Linked DNA regions of Homo sapiens. The protein of the gene in region 2 purifies or fractionates together with the protein of the main gene of each other region. This does not show direct contact. Each region holds a gene or a part of one and is shown on either strand. Other genes may lie near its edges.

The links.
Region 1: the proteins of NINL (region 2) and DYNC1I2 purify together in Homo sapiens (affinity purification with mass spectrometry, with the first as the bait; one large-scale study listed by BioGRID). This does not show direct contact.
Region 3: the proteins of NINL (region 2) and TKT purify together in Homo sapiens (affinity purification with mass spectrometry, with the first as the bait; one large-scale study listed by BioGRID). This does not show direct contact.
Region 4: the proteins of NINL (region 2) and CAMK2D purify together in Homo sapiens (affinity purification with mass spectrometry, with the first as the bait; one large-scale study listed by BioGRID). This does not show direct contact.
Region 5: the proteins of NINL (region 2) and IQGAP3 purify together in Homo sapiens (affinity purification with mass spectrometry, with the first as the bait; one large-scale study listed by BioGRID). This does not show direct contact.
Region 6: the proteins of NINL (region 2) and PASK purify together in Homo sapiens (affinity purification with mass spectrometry, with the first as the bait; one large-scale study listed by BioGRID). This does not show direct contact.
Region 7: the proteins of NINL (region 2) and SMC2 purify together in Homo sapiens (affinity purification with mass spectrometry, with the first as the bait; one large-scale study listed by BioGRID). This does not show direct contact.

Annotation. Positions count from the first base shown.
Region 1 is NC_000002.12:171,746,469-171,750,658, reverse strand, and holds the end of DYNC1I2 (cytoplasmic dynein 1 intermediate chain 2), read right to left. Parts: intron 2,884-4,190; coding exon 2,770-2,883; 3' UTR 501-2,769; downstream 1-500. UniProt on the Homo sapiens protein: Acts as one of several non-catalytic accessory components of the cytoplasmic dynein 1 complex that are thought to be involved in linking dynein to cargos and to adapter proteins that regulate dynein function.
Region 2 is NC_000020.11:25,470,532-25,474,031, forward strand, and holds part of NINL (ninein-like protein), read right to left. Parts: intron 1-3,500. UniProt on the Homo sapiens protein: Involved in the microtubule organization in interphase cells. Overexpression induces the fragmentation of the Golgi, and causes lysosomes to disperse toward the cell periphery; it also interferes with mitotic spindle assembly.
Region 3 is NC_000003.12:53,239,023-53,242,522, forward strand, and holds part of TKT (transketolase), read right to left. Parts: intron 3,221-3,500; coding exon 3,103-3,220; intron 2,224-3,102; coding exon 2,110-2,223; intron 1,327-2,109; coding exon 1,229-1,326; intron 1-1,228. UniProt on the Homo sapiens protein: Catalyzes the transfer of a two-carbon ketol group from a ketose donor to an aldose acceptor, via a covalent intermediate with the cofactor thiamine pyrophosphate.
Region 4 is NC_000004.12:113,517,239-113,520,738, forward strand, and holds part of CAMK2D (calcium/calmodulin-dependent protein kinase type II subunit delta), read right to left. Parts: intron 420-3,500; coding exon 325-419; intron 1-324. UniProt on the Homo sapiens protein: Calcium/calmodulin-dependent protein kinase involved in the regulation of Ca(2+) homeostatis and excitation-contraction coupling (ECC) in heart by targeting ion channels, transporters and accessory proteins involved in Ca(2+) influx into the myocyte, Ca(2+) release from the sarcoplasmic reticulum (SR), SR Ca(2+) uptake and Na(+) and K(+) channel transport.
Region 5 is NC_000001.11:156,562,566-156,566,065, forward strand, and holds part of IQGAP3 (ras GTPase-activating-like protein IQGAP3), read right to left. Parts: coding exon 3,462-3,500; intron 2,868-3,461; exon of another isoform or gene 2,771-2,867; intron 2,127-2,770; coding exon 2,050-2,126; intron 1,260-2,049; coding exon 1,192-1,259; intron 1,102-1,191; coding exon 988-1,101; intron 748-987; coding exon 569-747; intron 101-568; coding exon 22-100; intron 1-21.
Region 6 is NC_000002.12:241,139,473-241,142,972, forward strand, and holds part of PASK (PAS domain-containing serine/threonine-protein kinase), read right to left. Parts: coding exon 3,365-3,500; intron 1,282-3,364; coding exon 1,049-1,281; intron 584-1,048; coding exon 413-583; intron 1-412. UniProt on the Homo sapiens protein: Serine/threonine-protein kinase involved in energy homeostasis and protein translation. Phosphorylates EEF1A1, GYS1, PDX1 and RPS6.
Region 7 is NC_000009.12:104,100,809-104,104,308, forward strand, and holds part of SMC2 (structural maintenance of chromosomes protein 2), read left to right. Parts: intron 1-1,151; coding exon 1,152-1,385; intron 1,386-1,615; coding exon 1,616-1,765; intron 1,766-3,500. UniProt on the Homo sapiens protein: Central component of the condensin complex, a complex required for conversion of interphase chromatin into mitotic-like condense chromosomes.

The DNA.
Region 1 (4,190 bases), on a different chromosome or scaffold from region 2:
AATGTTGAAATACTGGGGTTGTGGAAAAGACATTTAAAAATACACCGCCCAGTGAGTGGCAGGTGACCACTGAAATTTATGGCAGCGCTTTAGGGAAAAACAAACAAACAAAAAAACCTACTGGCTTTCTGACTTAAAAGTAATGCACTACTCAATATAAAGCAAAGATAGTATGATATGCTTCACAGCAGATTTTCACTCATCCATTCAAGTCTTTCTGTATGGTTCAAGGGGTGGATATTAGTCTATCCACACTAGTACAGAACAGACTAAAACATTTTAACAACACTGAAAGACTAGGACCAATCATTCCTAAAACGACTTTCCTATAGTTCCTCCCACTAAATTTTAAGTCATCCATTCCTTTGAGATGCAGTATTTCAGCATTATTGTAACAACATTTTATACAAAGAGATTTTCTAAACTTTATAGGGAGCTGGATCTGTAAACAGGAAGAAAGCTTCTACCAATGCATATTTGGTTTAAATAATACCAAAAAATGATTATTTCAGAGATTTATTGCAAGTTAATTGTCTGTGAAGCTGGATATTCCTTAACATGAAGGTAATAAACTTTAACGTTCCACTCAAAAAGACAAAAACCAAACAACGAAAAATAAGAAATTAACCAGAAAGCTATAGCTTGTTTTCTTACTCAGAAAAAAAGTATAACTGATAAGGTACAATTTCTGTAACTGGATATTTTTCAAAATTATAAGGCTTTTAGTTCTAAAAGTATAAAGAACTGTGATGCACTTCTAGTCAACCTAATCTTGCTAGAAGCTTTATCAACACTGACAGTCTCAATACTTTCTCTTTTGCTATTATATAGTCAACTTTAAAGGTAATTCCTTAAAGTAAATTTGTGTGTTCCTAAAAATATGGACTAAAGTTGAATGGGCAAAGGTATACATCGCATTTTCTGGGGGAGTAGGGGAGAAGTCATTCCCAAAAAGTGAAATATTTAAACAATTTTATTCTTTCTTTCACAACTAAACACACCTTGAGGCTGAGGAACATGTGATTTGCCATATGATTTCCAACCTTTTCTTATCCATTATGTTTTAACACTTGTTTTCCCTACTTTTAGTCATTTTTACAAACTGAAGGTAAAGATACAGTAACTACATGAGTAGTGAGTACATGAATTTTTCTATATAAAGAAAGTGTGACTCTACTAAAATTGAAGTTTTGACTCACAGACACTGCTACAATGAGATAACTTGAGATATTGTCTTTGGTATATAATGGGCAATTATGGGGTATTAATTTATGAAACTGAATATAGAAAAGTAAAGAATTGCCTACTTTTCTATATTCCATTTCACATACTGATACCCCTTAATTGAGTAGAGCTGAAAGAAAATTCAGAAATCATTAAATCAAAACTTAATTCCTACATATAAAGAATGCGGCACAGACTTGGCTAAAATCACACTTCTCATAGATGCTTCAGCAAGAATCAGAGTTTGGGGCCAATAATTCCAGGTCAATTATTCCTTACACTATACACTACTCATTATTTGGAAATTTCTCTCCCAACAAATCTTTGTTACAATTATTAAAAGAAAAATGTTCACATTCTGTTTTCTAATCTCTCTTCCTAGTTCATGTTCTGTTGAATAAAAGACAGTTACACTTCAGAAGTACAAAAGGTTGGGATCAAATAAATAGACAATTTAAAGTAGATAAAATCAAGATCTGATCATAGTCCTTTCCTCTATTCCTGAAATTCACTGATTTCAATACTGATTCTTAGATATTTGTCACCTACCTTTCGGACTTGTAGACAATGCTGTGGCAACAGATCTCAAGATGTAGATTTTAATGCCAAAGTATGGGTCCATTTGAGCACTTTGCCTTTATGGCTACTGAAATCATGAAATCAATTTCTCTCAAAGATTTTACTCTCAGTGAGGTCACATACATAGTTCTTAATCAGTGAAAATTATAGGCAGCTTTCTATTTATCCTTTAAAGGAAATATGTCTTAGATGGAAAGAATATAAAGTAGTAAAGCAAAAGTTAACCTAGGGGAAATTTTTTCACCAACAGATTATCTAGACATCAATTCATAATGCACTGGGAGATCTATAGTATATACCACATGGTATATTTAGGGTACACAGCTCTATAGGATTTGAGATGGCTGCTCACAGCAGGAGCTTAAAGAAAGATATGGAAAAAATATATTTTATAAAAGATGGAAAAATTCAAGTTGTAAGGAGTAAAAATGAAAATTTGAAAAGTTAACGCATATTTGTTTTTATTTATAGGTAACTACCACATGAATTATAAAGACAACAAAGGATGTCAGAATGAACATGGATAGGTGTATGCATACTACGGCTAAGGAGAAACAATGTTCCTACATATTATGGGTAGTGAGAACATTATCTGTATAACAGGGAACTGTGATTATTTAAAAATATGCAGAACTTATTTCATCTGTGCTTTAGAAATAACTGTATACAGTGTTATAAGTTGAAAAGAACTCAAAATAACTAATACCAAATATACACCTATGTATTAGAATTCAAAAAAGCTGCTTTCTGTGAAGTCAATCAGCTATATTAAAAAATGACACAAATCCAAAACAAGATGCATGTTATATATAAAGGGACATTGTAAGTTTCCTTGCTGCATTAAACCCATGGTTTAATCCATGAAATTTCCTTTTAATTATCATTTAGACAGAAGCATGCAAATAGTCTCAGGATCTACTTAAGAACCTTTCCCAAATCCACTAGTTACACTCCCCTTTTCAGGAACTAAGCAGGTATTCGGGTAGCTGCTTCCTCCTCTGCATCAGCTCGGTTTGCATTAATTTCTGCAAGTGTTCGGCCAAACCGTGCCCATTCATCATTGCGGGGAACAGCAATCTGCTGTTAAAAGAAAGACAATGTTTTATATACAATGAAATAAAAGATCATTTTACCCACTATTATTCAGTTTGTTTTCAAATAATTTTTCTGTTAAAAAGTAATAATTGACCTGAATGGCCTTTCCATAATTACGGGGACTATAACAATGATTTACAACATTTCAAAACAAAAGACGGTGTTTGTGAAGTGTGTTGTGACAGCCTCAGAAATGACTTGGCTATTATCACCACCAATGCAAGAGAGAATAACAATGATGCTTTGTAAATATAACTCCTATGCACCATCTCATGGATTTTGCTGGAGAGGAATTCCTTAAAATTTTTTTTTTACTGTATTCTTGCAAAATTCCTAGTAAGAAACAGTGTTTGAAGCATGGTTCATAAGGGGGCTCGTTTCTTGTAAGTATTTTTCTTTGGAACATAAGGTAATCTTTCTTGATACCTTAACTCCTTCATCAAAAGCTGTGCTACTATTTACCACTTTAGTGCTGCACTGGTGGCAAAAGAGCCTTGTGATGCTTTACTTCAGAGGCAGCCCAATAACATATATATATATATATATATATATAATTTTTTTTTTTTTTTGAGACAGTCCCACTCTGTTGCCCAGGCTGGAGTGCAGTGGCACTATCTTGGCTCACTGTAACCTCTGCCTCCCAGGTTCAAGTGATTCTCCTGCCTCAGCCTCCCCAGTAGCTGGGATTACAGGTATGTGCCACCATGCCTGGCTAATTTTTGTATTTTCAGTAGAGATGGGGTTTTGCCATGTTGGCCAGGCTGGTCTCGAACTCCTGACCTCAGGTGATCCACCCGCCTCATCCTCCCAAAGTGCTGGGATTACAGGTGTGAGCCACTGCGCCCGGCCCCAATAACAAATATTTTTGATAACTGCCATTATAATATCATAGGAGTCTGACACTGTCATGTTAGGGCACAAACCACTCACTGTGGCAAATGGCTGTGCCTGTTTATAAATCTACACTATCCAGTAGGGTAGCTACTGGCCACATGTGACTGTGTATATTAAAATTAATTAAAATTAAAAATTCAGTTACGCAGTTGTAGTAGCAACACTTAGAGTGTTCAATAGCCATATGTGGCTAGAAGCTACCATATTAGTGCAGGTACAGAACATTTCCATTTGTGCAGATAGTTTAATTGGCTGCTGTAAATGATTAAATCTACCTCCCACCAGATCCAATTGCTAGAGGCCATGGGATATCCAGAGAGGAGAGAAATCATGAGGCATAGCAAAGGAAAGTGACTAAGGTCACTTTTTTAACCCCTAGCCAGGGTTAAAAAAGAGGA
Region 2 (3,500 bases):
TATGGGAAACCTCTGCTAGGTGAATCTCAAAGTGGGAAAAGGCAGGGATAGACAGCCACTATGTGAACCAAGTCTGCCTGGGCCGTCTTTGTTCTCTGACAACTCAGGGAGTCCCTGCTTGGGTAATGCCATTGATTTGATAGATGAAGATGGCAATTTACCAATGAAGATCACTAATGGGAGCCAGGAGTGGCGGCATGCATCTGTAATCCCAGCTACTGGGGAGGCTGAGGCAGGAAGACTGCTTGAGCCCAGGAGTTTGAGACCCTCCTGGGCAACATAGTGAGACCTTGTCTGTGAAAAAACAAAAAAGATCACCAGTGAAGTAGCTTAAGACCCATACTTGCTACCCAGAGAATGCATTCTTAATACTGACTGGTAAGGCTAACGTGTATTCCCCAAATAGGTCTCCATATGGTACTAGCTTCTTATTTTTTCAGTCTGAAAATACTGAAAGCCACATGATCTCACCATGTTCACTTCATGTATTTTTTTGTTTTTTCTTTGAGATGGGGTCTCATTCTGTCACCCAGGCTGGAGTACTGTGGCACGATCATGGCTCACTGCAGCCTTGAACTCCCAGGCCCAGGAGCTGGGACTACAGTAGGCATGCGCCACCACGCCTGGATAATTTTTGTTGTGGTGGAGATGGGGTCTCGATAGGTTGCCCAGGCTGGTCTCGAATTCCTGGTGATCCTCTCACCTAGGCCTCCCAAAGTGCTGGGATCACAGATGTGAGCCACCACGCCCAGCCCGCTTTATGTATTATACTTATAATAGTAAACATAAGTATCTTCTTCATATGCCTTCATTTTATCTCATGAGGAACTAAAGACAAAAATAAATAGTCACTGGAATTAAAGGCAGCAAAGGGTTTCAAGCAGGAGAGTTCTGTGTTTTTAAACTATCACTCTGGCTCTAGAATGGAGAACAAGTTGATGCAAGGCCGAAAGCTGAGGGGTGCCCTACCCCATCCCCCACATGACCACCAAACAACTAGATCCTGCGCAAAGCTGATCGCAACCTCTGTGACTGTCCTCATGGAAAGAAAAGAAAACCTGCAAGAATCTCCAAACAAAACAAAATCCTGGAAGCTGAAACCAACGCGTGAGCACTATGCAACACAAAGCTGGGGGGACCTTGCAACCAATGCCTATGTGTCAGCACTGCTATTAGCAGAATGGAGAAGCTGCACTGTGGACACCTGCACCAGACAGGGCCCTGGAAGGAGGTTCAGACAGTCCCAGATTAGCACCTTCTCACTTCTCTGCAAAAGCAATAGCATCCCATATAAGGCTCTTTATATTCCCAGAGATTAACATCAAGCAAATATGAGCTCACAATCAAAGATCACCATAACATACATGGAGCAAAGCCACCCATAAATGACAGCAGAAGCCAGAAGCCAGAATTCAATCCTCTAGAAACTGCAGGTATTGGACTTATTAGACACAAACTAAAAATAAGTGTTATGAAATGTTTACATAAATAAAAGACAGCAACAAACAATGAACAAGCAACAAGAAACTATTGACAATGATCAGACAGGACCAAACAGAATTTTTAGAAATGAACAAAAAGTCAATGTCAAAATAAAAACTCATGGGATGGTTTAAATAGCAGATTACACAGAGCTGAAAGAAAGAGATACTGACCTGGAACACATAGGTATGTAAAAAATACCCCAAATGTGATACAGACAGAAGATGGAAAATATAAAAGAGAGGTTGAGACATAAAGTGAAATGCTCTAACAGTCACATATCTAATTGAAGAAAATAGTGGGAGGAGAGGATATATATATATATATATATATATATATATATATATATATATACTTTTTTTTTGTTTTTGAGACGGAGTTTTGCTCTTGTTGCCCTGGCTGGAGTGCAATGGCGCGATCTTGGCTCACTGCAACCTCCGGAGAGGCAATATTTTAATAGTAATGGCTGAGAGATTTTCATGAGACACCAATGCAATCCATACATTCAACAGGGAAAATATTTCTTTTTTTTTTTTTTTTCCCTTTTGCTCTGCCGCCCAGGCTGGAGTGCAGTGGTGCAATCTCAGCTCACTGCAGCCTCAACCTCCCAGGCTCAAGTGATCCTCCCATCTAGCCTCCCAAATAGCTGGGACCAAAGGTGCGTGCCACCATGTGTGACTAATTTTTCTTAAGTTTTTGTAGAAAACAGTCTCCTTATGTTGCCCAGACTGATCTTGAACTCCTGGGCTCCCAGAGTCCTGGGATTATAGGTGTGAGCCACTGTGCCTGGCTGGGACAATGTTTTCTAAGTAGGATGAACAAAAAGAAAACTATGCCTATACCCACAACATAACAATCCCATTTCTAGGTACAGCCCAACATAATGCTCCAAAAGACAAATGCAAGAACGTTCAGTGCAGTTCCATTTGTGAGAGCCAAAAACTAGGAACTACCCAAATGCCCATCAACAGGAGAAAAGAATAAACTGTGGTATGTTCACACAACAGAATACCACACAGCAATGCAAATGTATGAACTACAGCAACAACACAGATCAATCGCACAACCAGGTTGAGCCAAGAAAGTCAGACACAGAAGAGTACACACTGCATGATTCCTCTCCATAAAGTACAAAAACAAGCAAACTGAATCTATGCTGTAAGAAGTGGTTACCCCGGGGACTCTGGTGAATTCCATCTCTTGTTCTGGGCGCTGGTAACACAGACGTGTTCAATTTGTTGACAATTCTCCTAATTGTACAAATATATACATTTTCTTATGTGTATCACACTTTAATAAAAAGTTAAAAAGAGGCTGGGCATGGTGGCTCACACCTGTAATTTCAAGGAGGATCCACTTTGGGAGGCTGAGGCAGAAGGATCGCTTGAGGCCAGGAGTTTGAGACCAGCCTGGGCAAAATAGTGAGAGACTATCTCTACAATGAATAAAATAAAATAAAATATAAAATAAAATAATAAAATAAATAAAATAAAATAAAATAAAATAAAATAAAATAAAACAAAGTGGCCAGGCCTGGTGGCTCAGGCCTTATGTAATCCCAGCACTTTGTGAGGATGAGGCAGGCAAATCACTTGAGGCCAGGAGTTCAAGACCAGCCTGGCCAACATGGTGAAACCCCGTCTGTAGTAAAAATACACACATACACACACACACACACACACACACACACACACACACACACACATCAGCTGGGCATGGTGGTGGGCACATGTAATCCCAGCTACTTGGGAGGCTGATGCAGGACAATTGCTTGAACTTGGGAGGCAAAGGTTGCAGTGAGCTGAGGTTGTACCACTGCACTCCAGTCTGGGCAACAGAGTGAGACTCCGTCTCAAAAAAATAAATAAATAAATAAATAAAAAGTTAAAAAGAAAGAAATGCACACAGCAAATAAAAACCACTAAAGATACAGGTCTCAGAAGTAACCAGAGCACAAAAGTCAGATACCTACTGTGGATGGCACAATACTGGCCTCTAACAGAGACTATGTGACATTA
Region 3 (3,500 bases), on a different chromosome or scaffold from region 2:
AATCATGGGGACAGGTCTTCCCCATGCTGTTCTCGTGATGGTGAATAAGTCTCACAAGATCTGATGGTTTTAAAAACGGGAGTTTCCCTGCACAAACTCTCTCTTTGCCTGCGCCTTCCACATAAGATGTGACTTGTTCCTCCTTACCTTCCAGCATGACTGTGAGGCCTCCCTAGCCATGTGGAACTGTAAGTCCATTAGACCTCTTTTTCTTCCCCAGACTTGGGTATGCCTTTATCAGCAGTGTGGAAACAGACTAATACAGTGATTATTCTTTAAAAAAAAGAATAATTTTTTTTTTAAAGAGGCAGAGTCTCGCTCTGTAGCCCAGGCTAGGGTGCAGTGGCTCAATCATGTATAGCTATAATCTTGAAGCCCTAGGCTCAAGTGATCCTCCCACCTCAGCCTCCTATGTAGCTGGGACTACAGGTGTGTACCACCATGCCTGGCTAAGTTTTGTATTTTTTGTAGAGAGAGTCTTGCTCTGTTGCCTAGGCTGGTCTGGAACTCCTGGCCTCAAGCAATCCTTCCCTCAGCCAGCCATTATTCTTAACAGTTTACAACCTCATCCCCCCAGGCCATATCTGACCACCGCAGACAAACTTATGGCTAGAACCTTCCTGGGGGGCCGTTCCTACAAATCACCTGGTGGGCGCTAGAGCAGCACACCTTTCTGGTCAGGCTCATCACCCACCCTCTGAAGGCTCAATCTCTCAAATGTTTGTTTCTTCCCTGCTGATAGGAGGTGGCTTACAGGTATCCCAGAACCCCTCAGAACATACAACCCTCCCCTTTACCAAGATAAAGGCAAGTGGCTCAGGCCTGGGCTCCTGGTGCCTAGTCAGACAGGGGCCTGGGGGTGGGTCTTTCTGAGACTTCTGGGGTCTGGGCACAGGGCTGGGGGCAAAACAGGAAGTCCTCAGCCTAAGCACTCTGGCTGAAGAGCACATGATTGAGAGCACGCACTCTGTGCAAACCTGGCCCTGCCAGTCACTGCTGAGGGACCCAGGGCAGGTCCCTTAACTCCTGAGTGTTTCCTCATTTGTAAAGGGGGCCGGTCATGGCACCAGCCATAGCGGATGTTTAAAGAGCAAAAGAGGCCACGCATATGTATTACTCTGCCCTAGCCAGGAAAGAGGAAGAGTCTGGGGGCGATGGTGAAGGGTGGGTCACCCAAGGACCACTCCCCAAAACTACCCAGGTTGGGGGTGGGGAGTAGGTGTGTTACCTGGCCTTGTCGAAGTATTTGCCGGTGTAGGCCATCCCACAAGCGGCCCCGAGGCCCTGGCCCAGGGAGCCAGTGGCCACGTCGGTGAAAGCTTGTTTCTGTCATAACAGAAGGCCACCGTTAATCTGAGAGGAGAAGGGATCCTGGTCTCACCCGCCTAGGGAGCCACACTCCCACCCAGCCCAGCAAGCCCTTCCTCTGCAGAAGGTCAGGCCCCAGGATGGCCTCTACCTAGCATGTGACTTCTTCTCCTAATGAACTAATTATAATTATAGGTTCAAATCCCAGCCCTGCCCACTAGCCAGCTATGTGGCCTCAGGCCTCAGGCAAGGGACTGAACCTCTGTGAGCCTCAGTTCCCACATCACCCACTTCACAAAGTGCTGGGAGAGAGAATCATGAAAAAATTGACAGAACATTTGCCCCTCGTGGGGACCCAGACCATGTGACAGTTTTTGTGGTAATCCATGAAGTCTTAACGTTTGCAGGGATGCCAGATGGCACCCCAAGGAACAAACTGGGTCCCTTCCCCAGGGTTTCGCCAGCATCCTGCAGCCACTCCCTTATCGAGTCCCCTCTCTTCCCAAGCTGTAGCTACCTAGCCAAGGAGGCCCAGTGCAGAAGGGTAGCTTGGGGAGAGGCCCTCCCTGAAGTCATCCCAGAGCACCCTGGCTGAGGCCTCAGAAGGCCTTCCCCTTTGGCACCAGCTTGGGTTGAATACGTGTCCCCAAAACACCTGCTTCTTTCCTTCCTCAACTCAATGCCCTCCTCCGCCTTTCAACACCTTTGGCTTCTCAGTGGGCACCCCCTACCCCCGTCCCACATGTCTGGGAAATAGGAAGTGGAGGCAGAGGCATGGGAGGCTCTGGCAGGAGCACTTACCGGGACCGGGTGCCCGTCCAAGTCGGAGCTGATCTTCCTCAGGTTCAGCAGCTCCGCCTCGGCCAGGAAACCAGCTTCAGCCCAGACCGCGTAGAGGATGGGAGCTGCATGGCCCTGCCGGGAGATGGATGGTGGGGTGAGGTCAGGTGGGGAGCGGTTCTACTTCGGGCTGTGCCTACTTCACACTGACCCCTGGGGCCCGGCCGAGCCGGCCAACTGCAGCATCCATTTCAGGGGAGGAAGCAAGTGAAGGCCACTTCTCCCCTTTCAGCCCTCTTCAGCCTCTTGGTTTTCAGCCCAAAGTTCCCACTGCCAAGGCCAGGCAGGCACTAAGACAGGTGCAGGGGGCACAGCTGTGAGGCTGGACGAAGCCAAAACCCCAGCAGGCAGCCGGCTGCCCTAATCCCTGGTTTGTGGCATGGGAACAACTTGGACAGACTTCTAAGCTCTAAAGCCTGCCCGAGAGACCAAACGCCACGGAGGCAGGCCTGAGCACAGGTGGATTTCAGGGATCTGTGGCTGTGATTCCACCCAGAAGGGGGGGGTCAGGGGGTCCCCATCCAAAACCCTGCTACAGCACACCACCACCCCGAGGGGGCAAGCCGTGGCCTCGGGAGCGCTGGCACAACACAGATAGAGCAGGTAGGGAGCCACAACCCAGACCGAGATGCCAGTCCTGCCTGTCAACACCCAGACTGGGCAGAACACACAACAGATGTTTCCGTAGTCCCCTACTCCATTTCTTTGAGTTAAAGCGTTGTTTATGTACCTGGGCTCCATGGCAGAGCAACCCATCAATTCAGTCCTGTATTCCTTAGCCAGCTGGGTCAGCACAGAGCAGGACACTGAGGGAGAGGCCAGGACGAGCAGGGAGAAGGCACCTGGGAGAGGTGGGCCCAGCCAGGTCTCCTCAAAGACCACTCACCATTCCAGGGCCCGTGTGACCCTAGTCCCAGGCAAGGTGTGGCTGGCAGTGGGCAGCTGGGCTCTTACCTTGGAGAGCACAAAGCGGTCATTGTGCGGATTCCGGGGGTCCTGGGACTTGTAGCGCATGGTGTGGAAAAAGAGGACAGCCATGATCTCTGCGGCGCTGCAGCATGACGTGGGGTGGCTGTGGCCCAGGAGAGAAGACAGACACAGGCATCATGGCCCTGCACTCCTGAGCTATTGTGCTCAGCTGTACAGGGACCTGGGGGTGCATGTCCTGAGGAGTCACACAGGCCTGGCTTATCAGACAGCCACGAGCTCTTGTTCCCTGGGAGGGTGACACATGGTCTCAAGAAGGCCACTCCTGGCAGTTTGGGGCCTGGGCCAGCTAGTGGGTGCTGGGGACTGTTGTACCTTTCCAGGGGCATCAGATCCTCAGAATCACGGCAACTGAAAATATCTGG
Region 4 (3,500 bases), on a different chromosome or scaffold from region 2:
ACTAAACAGGCAATAATCATTTCTATAGCAGAAATATTTTAATTTTTATGTTTTTAAAATGCACTAAGGTCCAAATATTTTGACAAAGTTCTTCCTCAGAGACTTCACATGGCTTTTCTTTCAATCTTAGGAGACAGTGAGTTAAAAGGAAACGTAAACTGGATACAAATGCTGCATTTCTTTCTCCCTTTCCTTAAGAGAGAGGGAAATAATATGAGAAAGTGGTAAAAATTATGGTTAAAAGAAAAATGAAAAGATCTGGCTCTTGGTCAACAGGCAAAAGACAAACCTTCATCTAAAGTGATATAAATAGTTATTACATACATCATAAGCTCCAGCCTTGATCTGCTGATAGAGTCTGTGTTGGTCTTCATCCCAGAAGGGTGGATACCCCACAAGTAGAATATAGAGAATGACACCTGGAGGAGAATATAATGTTAACACAATTTAAGTCATATAGACAACAGTAAATTAAATGTGGCTGATCCACAATGATATTAAGCCGTAGTTGTTAAAACAGAGAAAACTGGATTGTAGGAAAACTTCAGAAAGATGTGTTATGATCTAGTCTAGAGCAGTCTCTGGAGGGTGAATGCTTCTCCTCCTATGCTCCAGAACTCTGACAATGTGTCAGTCAATGCATGCATCAAAGAATTCTAAAGAGGCATGGCAGGGCAACATTCATTTAGGGCAACATTCTTTGGCCCCCCTGAACTCTTGTCTATAGAGGGTCTTACTGCATTCTTATCTATATAGAGACTATGATTTTAGTCACTGTGAGGTTGAAGTTTAAAAACTAAGCATGTTTTTTATTTCCTCATACTTGTTTTGATGGTCATTGGGACATTTTGTTGAGTGATGGTGTCCTGGTTATAAATCCACGTTCTAAATAACCATAGTCCCTGCAAATGTGGGTACCCCATAGAGACAAAACCCTTTTCTTTTCAGTAATCTTAGTCTTCAAATACTTCAAGCCTTCTCAGTCAAACAACTAAACCAACAAGACTACAGAAGAATATATATTATGGGAGAGGAAAAAGGGAGAGAAGGGAGAAATTCCACAGAAAATTCAAAGTAATAATAACAATAAACACATGGCTGTAATAAAATTTGCTAAAATTTTTCACAAACATAATTATTTATAAATTAACCAAAATCTAATTTCACTTTTAAAATTAAAAAAATTCTGTATTCACAGTTTGTAAATTTCCCTGAAATCATATCTGCAGTCTAAATGTCTGAGATTGTTTTGATACAGTGGTCTTCTCTGTCATCAAATATCTCTCCTGCCACTTTTCACGTATTTTATTGCCTTGCTTAAGGCCTTTGGTTTCTTTCCTAGCTCATTATCCTGGAGGAAGGCAGTCATTCCTCTGACCTCTCCTGTTTGCTTTTTTCTTGCTATGTTTCCTTAAGCCTAGGAAACCTGAGAAGAAGAGTAAGACAGGTGACACTTTGCCAGGTGTACCCTGAGACTTATTTTTTCCCTTATCCAAGGTGGTCTCTTGGTCTCTGTACCTAGGAGATCTATCCCTGCTCCTGTCCAGCAGTCTGGACATCTTTATACAATAGACACTGTAGCAGCTGAAATGGTTTTTAAGCAATGGTTTAATCATCTTAGAATTTTATAGCCTGCTTCAGGAAGATACAGTTCATAAGCAGATTTTTTAAGTCATGTGAATCAATACAAGGATAAAAAATTTTAAACAACATTCTTAAGGAAAAAAAAAAGACCATGAAGAAAACCACAGTATATTGGTACCTCACCTTCATGACATAAAAATAATTTTTCCATACATCTAATGAAAATGATGATAGTAATGATGATGATGAGTGTTTCTCTTTGTGTTCTCAGGAGGCAAGTAGAAAAAAAGCTGTACCTGAGTAGTTTTAGCCCTCAGCTATATAAGGTTCCAGGAGGTTAAGAAGAAAATTTGCTTTGTAATAGTGATAGTTTCCATTGAATATGAACATTTTCCTAATACACATCTGGAATTAGGCTGTTATAGAATTATGAAATAGTGGCTCAACTGAGACATTTAGCATTCTCAACATAGGCTGTTTGTCCTTATGAATTATGTCTGCAGTTGACAGTTGATGTGGTGCTTCTCTGGGAAGAGGAAGCTCACAGAGGGCTCATTCCATGAGAAAAGCAGGCAATATGTAATAGATGCCCACAATTTAGCTGTTTGATGGAGGAGTGTTTACAAAAACATGTACTTTAAATAAAATAATAGCATAAATGTGAAGATTAAAAAAAACACTTTTAGGCCCAAAGACTTAAAAAAAAAACATATTATAGGTGCTATTGACTAGCCTGATGTGAAATTGTCAGTGCCTATTTAAATAAACACCGTTTTGTAAGTTTACTTCAACTTGATTATTAAACAAGCATCTAAAACCTTTCTGAGTTATGCTATTTTGTAGTTCTATTTTCTGAATGTATAGAACAAGTATGAGACTCATGGCATAAGGATAATGTAATACTAATAAATTTTATTGTAGATAACATTTATTCAGAGTTATGTGTGCTTTAATGCATTATCTCATTTAATCCTTGTATAATGCTATGAGGTAGATATTGTTATTATCTGCATTATATTATAGATGAAGAAACAGGCTGAGAGATTAAGTAACTGTTTCAACCACAAGCAGGACAGACATAATGATGCTCTAAACATTCCCTGCAGCCACTTTTTCTTTATCTATGAACTTTAGTAGGAATGATAATATAAAATTTAAAACTTTGTGTTGTCTAACTGAGAGACCTTGACATACTAGCAAAGATGTCCATTTGGTCCTATCTTAAATGTTCCTTGCAGCTACTTTTTCCTTTAGCTAGGTCCTCTAAACAAATGCTTATTTTAAAAGTGTTTGTTGTTCTAGGCCGGGCGTGGTGGCTCACACCTGTAATCCAAGCACTTTGGGAGGCCAAAACGGGCAAATCACCTGAGGTCAGGTGATCACGACCAGCCTGGCCAACATGGTGAAACCCTGTCTCTACTAAAAATACAAAAAAATTAACCGGGCATGGTGGCACATGCCTTTAGTCTCAGCTACTCGGGAGGCTGAGGCAGGAGAATCGCTTCAACTCAGGAGGTGGAGGTTGCAGTGAGCCAAGGTCGTGCCACTGAATTCTACCAGCCTAGGTGACAGAGTCTTGTGACTCTGCCTCAAAAATAAAAATAAAATAAAATAAAATAAAAGTGTTTGTTGTTCTAATTGAGTTCTTGCCTCATGAGTAAGCCCAATTTATCTTTTTAATAAACCTAAATTTTACCTTTTTTCTATGTCAGAGAAAAAAGAAAGGAAAAAATCACTAGCTCTTTTTCTTTGCCCATATACCTAAAGTACTAAAATCATTAAAAGTCAATGAAGAAGTCTTTTTTTTGCGAGACCACTTGAGGGGTGATGATGTGACCTCCAAATGTTGGGTATCTCTCATGACACTAGCAGCCTTTTATGATTACTGCCTACATAATTTTACTGGGGTTGCAAAA
Region 5 (3,500 bases), on a different chromosome or scaffold from region 2:
CTCCTGCTCGAGGTCTCTTACCGTTGACATGGTTGATATTGCCCTGGATTTCAGCCTGAGTTAGGTAGTGGTCATAGATGTCCTGGCTTTCTCTGTCATCCTGCAAAAACTCCATTGAAAGGGAACCTGGGAAACCCAATTTAATCTCCTTGTCCTGCTCTTCCCTGCCTGGCTACACTTATTTCTTCTTCTGGGGACCTTCCCAAGGCCAAAGTTCAGTCTGCTCAGAATTCAGGAATTGTGGGGTCTAAAACACTTGGCACTGACATAATTAAGCCAAACCAACCTTTGGAACCTCCAGTCCAATCTCATTCTGTTCTACATTCCAGCACCCCTCTCAGGCTTCCCTGAAGATCATCCCCCAAGAACCTCTTCTCCAGTCTTCTCTTCGGAATTCTCATCATTCTTCCAAGTTCCTTTCCTATTTCTCTAAAATCACTGATAAATTATGGTTTCTCTAAGAAGCAATTTTGGATACTAGAGACATGACAGATAGGAGTCCCGGTTTCACTTGAGACTTTCCAGCCACTCAACTTTTCGGTCCCTGCAACCCAAGACTACTCCTTACATGGTTCCTGGCATTGGCTGCCTTCTCCATCTTGGCCTGGGCCAGCATCTCTTGGTAGACGGCTGCCAGAGGCTCTCGGAGATTCTCCAGAAGAGCACTGGGATTCTGCAAGGCAGCCAGGGTGTCCTCCACCACCCCTCGCTCCACTGCTTCATTGATGGCAAGAACAGCTGCATGGACTGGGAGAGGGCATGGAAACAAGGTCAGGAGGCCAGAGTGAATCCCAGATTGGAGCGCAACCAGTAGCAGCCCACTCTAATGTCATCCTTTTTCCCACCCTCAAGGGCCAGACAAACCAGGTAGCCTGATGGCCCTATCTGTGGATGAGAGCTGGCCAGAACCCATCCAATGGCTGTGAGGCTTGGAGCCCTCCCATACGCATTGAGCCTACTCCTGGCAGGGCAGAGCCTAGTCCTTACCTGCAGCCTCATCCACCGAGAGCTCATTGGCCAAGATGCCCCCGATCTTGCTGAAGGCAGGCAGCTGGAGGCCATATTTGGCCAGTTCGGACGCCATGTTGCTGAGTTCCTCAGCTGCAATGATGCCACAGGTGCCCTTCATCAGGCCCAGAACCCCCAAGACCCTGCCCAGGCTGTGGTGGTCAGGGAAGGAGCTGGGCTTACCTGTGAATTTCACTTTCCCGTATAGATCATGTATCTGAGGGGCCAATCCCAGCCGGAAGAGGAAGAGACTAGGAAAAAACGGAAGGCATTGGAAGGCACTGGGGCCTATTCATTTTGACACTCTGCCCACGATGGGTTTGAAGGGGATACTATGGGGACCTAGAGATGAAGACCACTCAGCACCTGCCCTCAAGTCATCCCCAACCCACATAAAGAAATATGACCATAAATCAGCCCAAGGAAAGTGCTGCAGAAGGTAAATAAGATGGTGTTGGGGGTCTGAGGGGATTAGGAAGGCTTCACAGAGAAGGCCACATTGCAGTAGCAGGTCACTCAATGGAGAGAGAGGACAGGAAGGGCGCAGCAAGCAGATACCTGCTGAGCTAAGGCACAGGGGCACAAAGGGACATGGGAAGTGGTCAGAAAGAGATGGCATGGTAAACACAAGGAACCGGTCGGTCACTTGCTGTGATTTAGCCAACTGGTTGCTGATGGCTGGCTGTAAGTAGGACCAAAGAGCCTACACCATCCATACTAAGTGTCTTGCCTGTGTTGCTCTCAATAGGTCCTGTTCTGATTCCTTTATACCCAGTTACAAACTGAAGGCCCTACCCTGCTACTTTCCTATCTCTGGTACCCTGCCTGCCCTTCCCCTTCACCCACACAGGCCATACATAAATGTGCCCACAGACATGCACAAAAATCTAAACACAACTCTGTAAATCTGAAACCTCACTCTCCTGAGCAGTGCTCCCTGTGGTCTACCCTTCATCCTTCTTTCTTGCTGAGTTTGTTGTTGTTGATTGTTGGTCGCATCCACCTAGAGGAACCTGGATGATAAAATTTGAGGTCTCTCACCTGAGAGCATGGATGCAGTAGACTACCCGGGGCATGTTCTTTTTGTCATAGATGTCCGTGGTCTCTGGGAAGAAGGTCTAGAGGAGAAACCAGCCAGTTACTGCCATTGGGAACCTTTAAGCACCACCAAATGCGGAGAGGGGGTGCCGAGGAATGGGTCTTCCTCTCCAACCTGAGGTGTGTGTTCCCTTGTTACCTGGGGTGTCTAGGTCAGTCTCCCCCAACCATTTCTAGTCAGCCTAGTATAAAAGAAATTCACTGAGGATGCATACTAAGCCAAGGCTCAGCCACAGACACATAGTCCTAGGGTGCCCTGGATTAACCAAACACCAGATAAGGCCATCAAGGCTACAGGATATAAGCCATATCCTCCAAAAACAATAACAGCAACAACAACAAAAAACCAGGCCCCCAGTTGTCTTCCAGATGTCTATAGTGAGCCTGCATGCCTCACCTTAGACCCTTGCCAGAGATGTGGTATGCTGGAGAGCTGGCCTACTCCCATGCAGGGCCCAATGAAGCATATATTGCCAAGGACCACAAAAGTGTCAGGCTGTTATCCCTGTCTCCAAGCCAGCGGCTTCTGATCAATGAGAGCCCTTCTAAGAACCGAGTGGCACCAGGTATGGCTTCTCAATGCCACCTGACAACTGTAATGAGGCCTAACCTCAATATATCTTGGTTATATTTAGATTCACAATAAAAGACCAAATTTAGAGACCTAGAGTGTTCCAGTCCCACTGAAGACACATGACCTCTATTGCTTCTGCCTCCCATCGAAGTGTCTTTACTGCTGTTTCCTGTCTTATAGTGCCTTTCTACAGGGAAGAAAAACAAAGCAGAAAGAAACCATACATTGTAGAATCCTATCATGCCTTCATTTGTATAGCTCTTCACAGTTCACAAAGGGAGTTCACACAGACCATGTGATCTTCCTGACAACACTGTAAGGTAGACAGGGCAGGGCTCACTATCCCCATTTTACAGATGAGTAACAAATTGAGGTTCAAAGAGTGAAATCATGTGTCCAGTTGGGGTTTTGGACCTAGGCTTCTAACTCAAAGTCTGCCACCTAGGGATGTGTATACCCTTGCTTCACACTGTGAAATTTGGTGGAGACAAGGCTGGCCAATACGAGCATGACATAGCAGCCTCCCACCCCCTGCATAATGGGAACCGTGCCACTCAGGCCAGGGAAACTTCACCTCCTTTCATCCACAGGGAAGAGGAGGCAGAGAAAAAAATAACCTGGTTCAAAGACACACAGCTGCAAGGAACTGTTCTCTTAGATTAAGTTAGTTTAGAAGACACATGGAAATAGGGCTAAAGGGTCCAGGGAGATAAAGCATGGGATTGTGGGAGGTGGCTGGTAAGGAGTAAAGATGAATACCAATCTTCAGGCCCAGTATTACCGAAGGCAGACCGATGTGGGCTATTGCAGATAGCCAAAA
Region 6 (3,500 bases), on a different chromosome or scaffold from region 2:
CTTCCAGGCCAACACCCCCGCCCGCTCCCACAAACACCAAACAGAATGTAAAAATCAATAGACAATAAAACCATATTACTCTTGAGCATCTGATGTGCTGCCCGGCAGGACTGCAAAACATTAGTGAAGCTACAGCCCTCAGACAAAGCAAGGGCCACCCACGACACCTCCCAGGAGTCCAGCCACAGCCACAGTGTCCATTCCTGCGATGATTCGTTCTTAAAGGGCCCCCACCCCCACTGCAGCTGAAGCGGGGAAACGGCGCCTGGGATGACATTTTCAGCTGAAGAAGCTGAGATGTCCTGGTGCCACCCAACCCCCAGCAGAGCTCCTGGTAGGGAACACTGAGCTGTTCCTGCCACACACTGCTGGTCTTGAGGCCAGACTGAACGCTGCACCCGCATCCACTCACCACCGTGCCAAACACCACCGCAGCGTGGCCGTCGGCCTCCATGTGCTCCTCGCTGAGGGCCTCCACCACATCAGAATCTGACCTCAGAAAGAACTGCGTGAGCTTCTGGCCAATCAGGTCCTGGCTGCTGTACCCCAGGAGCCCGCAAGCTTTGTCGTTAGCAACCAGGATCTGAGGAATCACAAAGAGGAGCAAGGATGCAGACATCCCCAGCAGCTCCACCAGCTGCCCAGAACAGCCCAGGACGACCATGCAGAAGCCAGCCTTTTCCTGACAGACAGGGTCTCACTCTGTTGCCCAGGCTGGAGTGCAGTGGCGCAATCAGAGCTCACTGCAGCGGCGCAATCAGAGCTCACTGCAACCTTGAACTCCTGGGTTCAAGTGATCCTCCTGCCTCAGCCTCCCTGGTAGCTGGGACTACAGGTGTGTGCCACCGCACCTGGCTAATTTCTTTGTAGAGATGGGATCTTGCTATGTTGCCCAGGCTGGTCTTGAACTCCTGGGCTCAAGCAAACTTCCCACCTCCCGAAGTGCCCAAATGTTTTTCTAATTGCATTAAAACACACAAATCCCAGGTTTAAGGCACAAACCACAAATCCACATCTACACAGCTGGATCTAAAAGAGAAGCAAATACCTCTGTGGTCTTGGCATCCACCGTGAAGATGGCCTTGTTAGGGTTGCACACAGGGGCCGGAAGCAGAGGTGAGGACCACCCTGAGGACAGTCCCCGCAGCAGGGAGCAGCAGGACACACTGCCCCGCGGTTCGGACGGGTCCGTGTGCTCAGGGGCAGCAGGGCAGTGCAGTTTACTTGTACAAATATTCTGGGCAGCCAGTGATGATAGACAATAGGAGCTCCATCTGTCTTCTGAAAAGAGAAGCGAAGCGAAGCTTTAGACTTCACACAGCTGCCAGAGTCCACCTTCTGAAACAGGCAAAGCACACAGCCCTTGCCCTCAACTCCTGCAAAAAGATCTAAGGATTAAGTCAGTCTGCACAGCTAACACACACTCTCACTGCGTGTCTGAACATGGTCCCCAGAATCCACTTAGGCAACCACCAGGTCCACTCGGAAGCACAAACAGCATAAGATCAACACTTCTGTGTCTAAATTACACTCAAAGCCAGGCGTGCCTATAATCCCAGTTCTTTGGAAGGCTGAGGCAGGAAGGTTGCTTGAGTTCAGGAGTTCAAGACCAGCCTGGACAACACAGCGAGACCCTGTCCCTACTAAAAATAAAATTTGTAAAAATCAGTTGGGCATAGTGGCGTGCCCTTGCAGCCCCATCTACTCAGGAGGCTAAGGCAGGAGGATTGCCTGAGCCCAGGAGTTTGAGACTGCAGCGAGCTATGACTGCGCCACTGCACTCCAGCCTGAGCAACAGTCAGACCTTGTCCCAAAAAACAAAAAAGCTTAATTACACTCAAAGGTTCCTTCCTTCCCACCTTCTGTCCTCTGTCAGTCATTCCAAGACCCCATGGCCACTCCGGTGGCTGCCCCGTCACCTCCTCCTTGGAAGCGTTCCTACGATTCAAGAGCTCCTTGTGCAGCGTTCTCTCAGCAACGCCTCCAATGGCTCCCAAAACCCTCAGCCCCGTCATTCCTCAGGCCTCACCCTCCTCCCACACCACCCTCCTCGGGCACCTGGGCTCCCCCACCTCCCACCTCTCAGTGACCCTGGCTCCATCTCACCCATTCCTCGGTAGCTTTAAATACATCTAATTAGAAATGCACTGAAGACTCTCACACTCGCACCTCCAGCCTGGACCTCCCACGGCCCACTCGCCTGCTTCCCCATCTCTGGAGACACCAGATACATTCTTCCAGTGCTCAAAACCAAGCACTCAAGACCTGACCCTTCCATTTCTCTCCCATCCCCTCCCCTCCATGTCCTCCAGCCAGGACCCCTGACTTTCTCAGTGAGTGGCCTGACCCCGACCATTCTCTGAGGCTGGAAACCACGTGGCCATCCAGCCACTCTCGCCCCTGCTCTTCCCCAGACAGCAGTCACCAAGCGCAGCTCCTTCTCATGTCTCAAGGCCCTGTACCTCCGGCTCCCACCCCTGCTCCTCATGCAGCCACCAGAATGATGCTCCAAAAAAGGAACACACCTGTCAACACTCACTGAGAACATTCCTGATCAGCGCCTGGGTGAAGCCCACTCCCAAGGGCGCTGTGTGCCTCCCAGCCCACCCCTCCCTGCAGTATCCTGGGCACTCTCCACAGGGCCCTCCGCTCTACACCCTCAGACACTCCAGTGCACAAGCTCAGCTCCAACACCCTCCTACTCCAGTGTCGAAGTGCTCCTTGACCTGGAGACCAGACTCCCAGCCACCATTTCCCGCAGCTCTATGCCCCACTTCCCCATTTTCCAGGTCTACCCCAACTTCAAGCACACAGCCTGCTGTCTCCCCAAGTGCCTCCATCAGACAGCCCCTGAAAGGCAAGTGACGCTTCCTTCCTCACCATGGCCCAGTCCTTTGGGGTGCCTGGACAAAGGAGGCACCAACGGAATCTGGACATAGGAGGCACCAACAGACTTCTGCCCCATGATTCTTGGTCCACCAGCTAAACCGCGTTTAGCTCAGTAAACTGCACGAGCAAAGCTGCAATTCCCTAAGTAAAATAGCCTAACCTAGAACAGCGTTCTCACATACTCTAAAGTAAGAAATAACATTTTGTTGTAACTTGACCCTGAAATGTGAAGGTGAGTTCCACCTGCTGCCTGAAAAGAAGCGCCAGCTGCCTGGGAATCACAGCAGAGTAAAAGCAGCAGGAAGGGTCCTGCCGGAGTCATCTGCCAGCATGAGCCGAGCACTTAAACCACGAACTTTTCTCTGCAGGAATAGAGTGACTTCAATCCCTGGTGAGAGGGTTTCCATGAGAACACAGAGCAACTCCACATTTGTATTTCCACGCGCTAAGGCCTGCAGTGGTCGAAGGTCATTACCAGAGAGCGCTGTCCTGCTCTGGCAGAGTCTGGAAAGCCCATTCCTTCTGCTCAGGTGTCTGTGGGCTGAGGAAAACGACCTGCTGGGCTCAGCAGTGGTCTGTGCAGCTGGGCCCTCTGCTGACACTGGCAAGGG
Region 7 (3,500 bases), on a different chromosome or scaffold from region 2:
TAATTATTGCTATCAAGGTATTTTGTAAGCAAAAGGTATTGAAACAGAGGATTGGATTGTCTCTGTAATCTTTGCAGCTCCTGACTGTCAAAAGACATGGCACAATATGTCATCAAAAAATGCATTTATGAGCTACGTTTTCTTTTTCTTGAGACTAGTCTCACTGTCGCCCAGGCTGGAGTGCAGTGGTGTCATCACAGCTCACTGCAGCCTCCACCTCCCGGTCTCAAGGGATCCTCCCACCTTAGCCTTCTGAGTAGCTGGGACTACAGGTGCATGCCACCACACCCTGCTAGTTTATTTTTTTGTAGAGACAGGGTTTCTCATTGTTTCTCAGGCTGGTCTTGAACTCCTGGGCTCAAGTGATCCACCTGCCTCGGCCTCGCAAAGTGCTGGGATTACAGGAGTGAGCCACTGTGCCCAGCCAAACGACGTTTTTAAAGCTATCTCCTTTTAGGAATTTATTAAATGCTCATTGAAATTTGGTACTACTCAGAGCTGTCTTGTGAATCCATATAGTAGTATAAATTTTACTGGAAAAATTGTAATCTTGAAGATACCCTTTTTGTATGTATGATTTAGTAGAAAACACTAGATCAGGAATTTAAACTTAGGTCCTAGACTTCATTTTGCCACAATTGCTTTCTAAATCTAACAACATGGACAGATCATTTAATCATTCTGAATTTGTTTTTTATGTATAAATTAAGGATTTTAGTTATTACTTTGTCTGGTCCCAGTAGGTCCTTATGGGAGTCGTGTTTAGTAATGATGTAAGCGAGTGCTTGTAGTAGTGCTTCAAAGTATATTAGAGTAGGCATCTTGATACTACTACTACAGAATCCATGTAATAGTGTAACATGGTGGGTGTGTAAGCTTATGAACCTTATGTCCATATTTCTTTGTTAAGCTCAACTACCCAAGTGTGTGTTAGAAGAAATAGCCAAATAAGATTCACTAGAGATGGTAGAATGCTATCTAAAAGTCCTGACTTCTGATGTTACGTAAAGTTTCCTACAATTTAAAATGCTATAATTGTTTAATACAGGACAAAATCTATTATGTAATGAGAAATTTGTTTCATCTTGCATAATTGAATTTTTTTTTTAATACAATTTTGAGTTATTCTTTTTTTGTGATTTCTCTTTCAGGAAAGATCGTCCTACTTGGAGTACCAAAAAGTAATGAGAGAAATAGAACATTTGAGTCGTTTATATATTGCTTATCAGTTTTTGCTGGCTGAAGATACCAAAGTACGCTCAGCTGAGGAATTAAAAGAAATGCAAGATAAAGTTATAAAGCTTCAGGAAGAATTGTCTGAGAATGATAAAAAAATAAAAGCACTTAATCATGAAATAGAAGAATTGGAAAAAAGAAAAGATAAGGTCTGAACATATGTATAAGAATCGATAATATACTCTGTGAAAAACGTACTAAATTATATATAGTAACTATTTAGGATTCATTGGGCATTGTCTTCCGTATTGATTTGTTAATCTTATAGTAAGATAATGAAATAACTTATAAAAAAGTGTTTGATACAGAACTCATACAATAAAATGACAGCGTGAACAAATTTTACATAAGTGATTGAATTGACTGCATTTTGTTATAGGAAACTGGAGGTATACTTCGATCTTTAGAAGATGCTCTTGCAGAGGCTCAGCGAGTTAATACTAAATCTCAAAGCGCATTTGATCTCAAGAAGAAAAATCTGGCATGTGAGGAAAGCAAACGCAAAGAGCTGGAAAAAAATATGGTTGAGGTAAGTGAGCTTAATGTGCCACTAGTGCCACTTGTAGACAAGTATATAGTCTCATTAGTGTACATTTATCTATTCCATGAATATTTAGTGAGTGTCTTCTATAAGCTAAGTACAGTTGTTTGGGCTGTGGTTACAACTGGACCAAATGGTCAAAAATCCTTGCCTTGTGGACCTTCATTCCATTGGGGGAAATGATAATAAAGAAAATAAATAAAACATGTAACATGTTATAGAGTGATAACTGATGTGGAGAAAAAGCAGGGAAGGGGATTAGGAGTGTAGGGGAAAAAGAGTACAATTTGGGATTTTAAGTTGGATAGCCACTGAAGTAAGTGGAGAATAGGAAGAACGGGTTTGATAAGCTTAAGAAATACAGTATGAATATAATAGGCTTGAGGAGCCTGTTAGACATCTTGAGTAGTGATGTTGATTAGGTACTTAACTATATGAATATTGAATCCAGGCAAAAATACAGATTTGGAGGCATCATCAATGTATAGGTGTTATTTAAATCCATGAGACTAGATAAAATGATCAAGGCTGTAAGTTCATATAAGAAGGTTGGAGCCCTGGGATACTTTCAACGTTTGAATGTTAGGATAGTTCAACATTCAAAAGAGATTGAGTAGTGTGAGGAAAATTAGGCCAGTAAATTGTCCTGGAGTCCAGGTAAAAAAGATGTTTCAAGGAGAAGTGGCCATGAGTACCTGATTAGATTGTGTTCATACTCTCACAGAATGAAGGCAGAAAAAAGAAAAGTGAATATAGATAACTTTTTGAGAAGTTTTCTGAAAGAGGGATAAATAGGGAGGTAACTGGAGGGTAATACAGAAGAGAGTTTTTGGCTTGATTTGACATGGGATAAATAAATTCTATATTGACAGAAAAGATCCAGTAGAAAAGTCGTCATTTGTGATTCAGGAGAGAGAGATGGGAGAGTTGTTAAAATAGGGCCCCTTAGTAGCTGCAAGTAGGATAGGAACTAGTGTATAGAGGAGGTCGCCTTCGCGAGAACTAGGAATAGGTCATCCATGGTAACAGAAGAGTCAAGTATATAGTCTCACATGTAGGTAGATGAGTAGGTGTGTTTTTGGAGCTTATGGCATTTCTTTTGAGGGTGATTCTGTTGTCCCAGTGAAGGTATACATTTGCCTTTTCACTGAAAAAAAATTAACTTTGTGAAAATAATTTCTTTATACTGCCCTGTTAGATATTTTTGCAGAGAAATACATTGTTGAATTAAGAAACAGTGGAGGAAAATTTAGACAAAATTTTGAAGCGATATGAACGTGTTGTAGCAGTCTGTGTTGTGGCATCCAAGAACTGAAATCAATTCATCAATTACTTTTTTTTTTTAGGTGAGGTTTGTAAAGCTCTAAACATGTGGACCTGCCTTGTTTTGGGTTCATTTTTCTTTAGTCTTGTCATGTCCTTAAGCTTCACACACTGATTGCTCCTTTTTCATCCTTCTTTTCTGTATCCCCTTATTCTTCTAGATCTCTTAATGTTAGTATGCCCTAAGGCTAGCACTCTGATATCTTTTATAAACTCTCACGCCATAGGTGGTCTCATCCAGCTCTGTAACTCTAAATATCATCTATATGTTGATGCCCTCCAAATCTATAAGCAGGCTTAACTCCCTAAACTCTATGAAGCAGGTTTATTGTGTGCAGATTACCAACTTGTCTGAAGCCAGCAGACATAACACATTCATACACAACATTTTATGTGAAAT